Regions from separate parts of the Homo sapiens genome. Here region 1 is linked to region 2. A link means that fine-mapping ties the variant in region 2 to the expression of a gene that starts in the linked region. Tissue or cell type: whole blood. Region 2 holds a variant in brackets; the other region holds the start of a gene. All regions are shown on one strand. Distances are between the middles of the regions. Region 1 holds the start of TBC1D7 (TBC1 domain family member 7). Region 2 holds the start of LOC100130357 (a long non-coding RNA gene).

The links.
Region 1: it holds the start of TBC1D7, and the variant in region 2 is fine-mapped to the expression of TBC1D7 in whole blood (TOPMed, PIP above 0.99).

The regions. Positions count from the first base shown.
Region 1 is chr6:13,327,058-13,329,966 of GRCh38, forward strand. It overlaps TBC1D7 (TBC1 domain family member 7), which reads right to left and starts at 1,480. Exons shown (of 8, transcript NM_016495.6): 1 at 1,239-1,480. TBC1D7-LOC100130357 (TBC1D7-LOC100130357 readthrough) reads right to left here and starts at 1,480. Exons shown (of 9, transcript NM_001318809.2): 1 at 1,399-1,480. LOC124901261 (a long non-coding RNA gene) reads left to right here and starts at 1,558. Exons shown (of 2, transcript XR_007059457.1): 1 at 1,558-1,841; 2 at 2,668-2,800. RefSeq lists a silencer at 1,296-1,685 and an enhancer at 1,319-1,825.
Region 2 is chr6:13,293,239-13,296,147 of GRCh38, forward strand. All of the region lies in intron 8 of TBC1D7-LOC100130357 (TBC1D7-LOC100130357 readthrough), which reads right to left. It overlaps LOC100130357 (a long non-coding RNA gene), which reads right to left and starts at 2,348. Exons shown (of 5, transcript NR_160971.1): 1 at 2,248-2,348; 2 at 2,037-2,150; 3 at 1,558-1,660. The variant C/T (reference allele first, on the strand shown) is at 1,534.

The sequences.
Region 1 (2,909 bases), 34 kb after region 2:
TTTCCTTTAACTCAGTTCTGCAACTATCTCACCTATGCATCTTGGCTAAAAACCAAGATATAAGTTAAAAGTTCTCTGAGCTGATAAAATAGATGGCACAAGGTTTATGCACTAGGTTTCCCACTATACCTATGAGTGCCTAGCACAATAGAACATTCTGTAGCTATTATAAATGCGCAAAGAAAAAAAATAAGTGAAATGGAAGCCAGGCAAGATACGTCAAGCAAATTATACTCAAACAGTATACACTATGATTTCATTTTTTGTTTTTTACAAATTTCATGTATTTTAAAACTTAACACTCTATTCCAAAATGTTAGCAATGGTTATCTTTAGATAGTAGGATTCTAGATGATTTTAATTTCCTTTCTTTTGCTTAGCTACTTTTTTTTAAATGGGCATTTTGTAAAATGAAAAATTAAGTTATATAAAAGTAAAAAGCCACGAGTTCCTCACTTATCTTTCTTTTAAACACAATTCTATTAAGTGTAGCTATCGAAATTCAAAACCCACAACAAATAAATCGCATTAAATTATAACTAGAAGAGGGTAAAGAATGTAGCCAATTGACAGTGATCCCAAAGTCAGAGTTGAAGACGGAAAAACGATTTAAAATCTACCGCAAGAACTCAAAAAGTTCAGTGGTCTCAAGTTCCTTCACAGTAACCTTCATAATACTGGCGGTAATTCATCCAAAAAAAGACCAAGTTAGATTTGGCGTTTCAAGAACAGAAAAGATCTGATGCATTTCCCAAAAAGCACTGCACTGCCTCACCCAAATGCTTCCAGCGTCTGTGCACAAAAGAGTAAATCTTTAGGTTTAAAAACCCTGCGACGTCCCCAGTGAGCAGGGGAGGGCTTCCTTCCTTATTGAAAAGATATCCTCTGAACCGATTCAGTCACAGGAAAGATTAGGATTCGTTTAGAAAATGAAATGCTAAAGGGCTCTGAGCTTTCGGGAGCAGATGTCTTAAAAATAAAAAAGTCAGCAGCATAAAACGCGTAATGAGTGTGGGGATTTATTTTTTTAAAGCATCCAAACAGCTGCATGACGATTTGGTCGGTCCCTGTTGTCTAAGGACACCCATTCTTAGATTGCACTACAATGACAAAGGCGTCCTCTAGGAGGAAATGCTGCAAATAATATCTCCTGCCCATGCGCGTCCACCTGATGGGAAAAGTAAAAACACCCTGGTCCAAGACCCCAGGTCCCATTCTCTCTATGATGGATGCTTCACCTCTAGTAGTGCAAACACACCCGGGTTGAGACTAAGTGGTCCGGGAGAAGCAGAGGAAGCCGTGCCCTGTGCGCTGACCGACCGCCGGGCAGGCGGGCACCGTTGGGGCCCAGGGCCAGGAGGGACGAGTCCTGCGGGAAGGAGGGAGGCGGCGGGGTACCTGGGACACCCGCGCGCGCCCAGACGGCCCGGGAGACAAAACTCAGCGCCGCTGCCGCTGCCGCTGCCGCCGCCGCCGGACGTGACATCAACTCCAGGTCGCCGGGCGGGCGCCGGGCGGGCGCATGCGCAGAGGGCGCGGGCAGGAAGCTCCACCCTCACTCCAGGAAGCTCTGGCTTCGTTTGTGAAACCCGACGGGATGAAGGGCTAGGCTCGCCTCCAGAGTAGTGTAGTTTCTCCCGCCGTGGGCACCCGGCCCCTTGCTACCCCGCAAAATCTCGCGACCATTTACTCTGGCCATCCGAAGGCGCGTGCCTGGGTTGCACTCCCGTGTCCGGCCCTCGAGGTTCTTGCCTAGGGAAGACCCGAGCCCTAGGGCCGTACTTAAGCTGCCTGCGTGCAGGACCCGGGTTTTGCTTTTGCTAATTTCCTCCCCACCCCAGGTATGTGGGAATAGATGAAGACCATCCGAATGAGAAGAAAAAAGGCAGGCAGAGGAGTGCAAGTCTGATTTAGAGCAGGCAGGCTCCCTGGGTTGGTTATTGTAGGTAACTGACTGGTTTTCTGGGCAGGTTGCTGCAGGTTGTGGATTGGAGGTCTATTTTTATATTAGATTTGGCCATTGTCTTAGTATATTCAGCCTCTCAGGTAAAACACTATAACATAGGAGAAAAATGAACGTGTTTTTTTTTTAAAAAAAGATGTGCTAAATGCAAGCTCCTAATTTGTTATTAGTAGGTCTAACAGAACAGAGTTACTCTTTAAAGTAGCTACTAACACTTACAAATGCTTTCTATTTCTGTGCTTGCCTCCCTGGTCCTCGGGCTGGCTGAGCAGCAGTGCCCAAGTAGGTTTTTAAACCGCCAGGGTTTGAGAGAAATCCCCAATGATGGGTATCGTCCCTTTGAAAGTTCAAATCTCTACCAAATAAGCCACACGGATGCCAAGCTTTGAAGGAAACTTAGGACTATCAACAGTGCAGAAGTCCAGTTATAGTGCAGACAAATGTGTGTATAATGGCTAGACAGAACTTAAAAATGAAGAAACGTGTGGTGGTTGAACTCAAACACTGATGCCCCTCCCCACTCCCTTACCACCACCATCTTTAGTTCCTCAGTACTGGGGTACTAAACCTTCCTTGGGTAGTGTTCACATGAGTAAGCAGAGTTCTTCAAGTTACCTTACACAAGTTCCATTTACTTCATCTAAACCTTGGGCCGGTCACTAACTTTTATAATTGCCTTTTCTTGTCTTTAAAATCATCACCAGGGCTGGGCACTTACTGTGTGCAGGCGCTGTTCTATGGACTCAGGATACATCAGCTACCGAAGCAAAGATCCCTAACCTTGTGAAACTGACATTCTGGTGGGAGGACAGATCCAATAAAAACTAAAATAAATAAGTCAATGATGTAGTGTGTTAAAAAGTGATCGGTGCTGGCTGGGCGCCGTGGCTCATGCCTATGATCCCAACACTTTGGGAAGCCGAGGCAGGCGGATCACCTGAGGTCA
Region 2 (2,909 bases):
GGAAAACCAAGTATCGTATGTTCTCACTCATAAGTGGGAGCTAAGCTATGAGGACACAAAGGCCTAAAAATGAGATAATGGACTTTGGGGACTCAGAAGGGGGAGGGTGGGAGGAGGGTAGGAATGAAAAATTACACATTAGGTACAATGTACACTACTCAGGTGATGGGAGCACTAACATCTCAGAATAAACTACTATATATTTTATCCATGTAACAAAAAGTCACTTGTGAGGCCGGACACAGTGGCTCACACCTGTAATCCCAACACTTTGGGAGGCCGAGGCAGGTGGCTCACCTGAGGTCAGGAGTTCGAGACCAGCTTCGCCAACATGGTGAAACCCCATCTCTACTAAAAATAGAAAAAATTAGCTGTGTGTGGTGGTGGGTGCCTGTAATCCCAGCTACTTGGGAGGCTGAGGCAGGAGAATCACTTGAACCCGGGAGGGAGAGGTTACAGTGAGCTGAGATCGTGCCACTGCACTCCAGCCTGGGCAACAAGAGCAAAACTCTGTCTCCAAAAAATAATAAAAAGCCACTTGTACCCCAAAAGCTATTGAAACATAAATAAATAATAAAATAAAATACAGATATACTAATTTTTGAAAAAGGTTCTCCCACCTGGATGACGGCAGCCATGATCTTTCTGCCTGTGGCCTCAGCATCCAGTCCTGCCATGAGAGTCATGTCTCCCAACTCAGATGGGCTCACCCCACCCTCCCTCTTGGTACCTGCCTCCACTGTCTTACCCATCAAGCCCCACTCTGCAGTGTGGCATCCGTAGTGACAGTGTGGCCCTTGCTCACTTCCGCCAGCCTCACCTCCTGTCCCCTGCTACATCACTCTGCTCAGGCTTCCCAAGCAGACCCTTCTGGTGCGTGTGACCTGGGAGTCCTGTGAGGGATGCTATTGATGTGGCCATGTTGTGGTGACCACCTCAGGGACAATCAGGGTTTAACAAGGGCCCTCGGGCACTGAGCAACTAAGCTTTCCTGAAAGGAGTCCAAGAGAGGTCTCATGTAGGCAACCTTGGAACTCAATGAGAAGCATACAAAGAAAAAAAAAGTATGAACAAATAGCTGTCTCTTCTGACACCTGGCAGGTGGCGGCCCTGATTTCTAACTCTGGCTACCTGGTCACTTGATCCCTACCAACAGCACCACTAACAGCTCCCACACAGTAAACACTTACCGTACCCCAGGCACTCTGTTAGGCCATCTTCATGCACCATTTTCTTTAACCCTTACGACACCTTGGTCACCGATGAGGAAACTCAGGTCCCCAAACAACAACGTGGGCAAAGTCACACAGATGGTAAGTGGCGGAGGGGCTTCCAAACCCAGGTCTGCCTGACTCTAAGGCAATGCCCTTAACCTCCCTGCTACGCTGACGTGTCGTGGCTTTCCCTCTACCTTCTTGAGTTCACACTTCCTCAGCATCCATCCAGTTATCCCATTTGCCTGTCTTGAGTGATTACATAGTTTTCTGACACTGAGGATCACAGACGGAAAGATCATGGACTGCCTCCAAGCCC[C/T]GGCTTCCAGCTCCTCCCTCTCACCTCTCATGCACAACTTTGTCTGTGATTAAGCTGAGTCTCCCGCTTCTCCACTCCGTGGGGACCTCCCACAAGCATTTGACAGTCAGCCAACATTTATGCCTTCCTGCAAGGGAAGCAGAAGTCACGAATGAGGCACTTGTACAGTGTGGGTCCTACCTAGAGCTGTTGCAAAGGCAGGAAGAGAAGGGCATGCTACCTAATGAGAGAGAAGAACACCAGACACTTCATCGTGTGTGAGCGTCCAGTCCCTTACCTAGAGGCTATTTTCTGGGGGGGAAAAGGGTTCTGCTCCTAATCAAATAATGCTCTCCACATTTCATAATAGGGAGCCATGATCATCCACTATTTCCATGGGCAACACTGCAGAGGAAGGCAAAGGGCTCTCATTAATTAAACTAATGAATTCATCTGCAGGAGACAGGAAGAGTAAACCACGGAAACAGAATTGACTAATTCTTCTTCCGTTAAGATGCATCTACCCTGAGCCAGAATTCCAGAACTGGTTCCCCTCCTCATCCATGATGAAGACGCTGCGGCTCATGTGGTCACAAAGGCTTGGTGTTTCCTATGTGGAGATACCATTGCTGTTCTACCTTTAATCAACAAAACAAAACAAAACAAAAACGAGAAAGAGAAATGGTAGAGGGAGGGAGGAAAATGCTGTCTGTTCCTTAATCACCAATCACCAACCTGGAGTGGTCACTGACACCTTGTCCAGTGTGGCAGGGGGGTCCCTGGGGTCCATGGTCCTGGGGTCCATTCAGAGCCCCCACCCAGAAGAGGACAAGCCAGTCTTCAGCTACACAGGTAAAAAAACACTTCACACATGGATTGAACTTCTTATCTCAGACAGTCCTGACCAGGGACGGCATCAGAGTAAAGGCTTTGGTCTCACGCAGCAACCCTGTGGCCAGTCCCCGCAGTGTGGCAGGCCTGCCACTGTGCGACCGAGGCCGTCATGCATGAAGCACATCTGGGGCTTTATGGCTCAACACCTGAGCCTCCTGGAAGGCCTTGGCCGCCTCACTGAAGCCCCAGCGTACCGGCTCTGCAAGGCCCTGGGGTTAAAATAGCAAAAATGCCATCTGGCAAGAGGCTGGCTTTGTTCAGACTGTGTGCTGCGTTGTCGCTGGGGTGGTGGGGACATTTTCCAAGCCACCATTAGAATATGAGCTGTCACCTGGGCGAGCCCCACTCCCCCATGCCCCCAGCCCGCTCGTCAGCATCCACGCAATCATGGCAGGAGCCCCTGTGGCAGCTGAGCCACCTTGGGTTTTCCTCAATTCCATCTCACTGACTTGGTGATGACAGCCCCAAAGCAGGCAGGACAAATCCCCTCTTTCTTCCTAGAA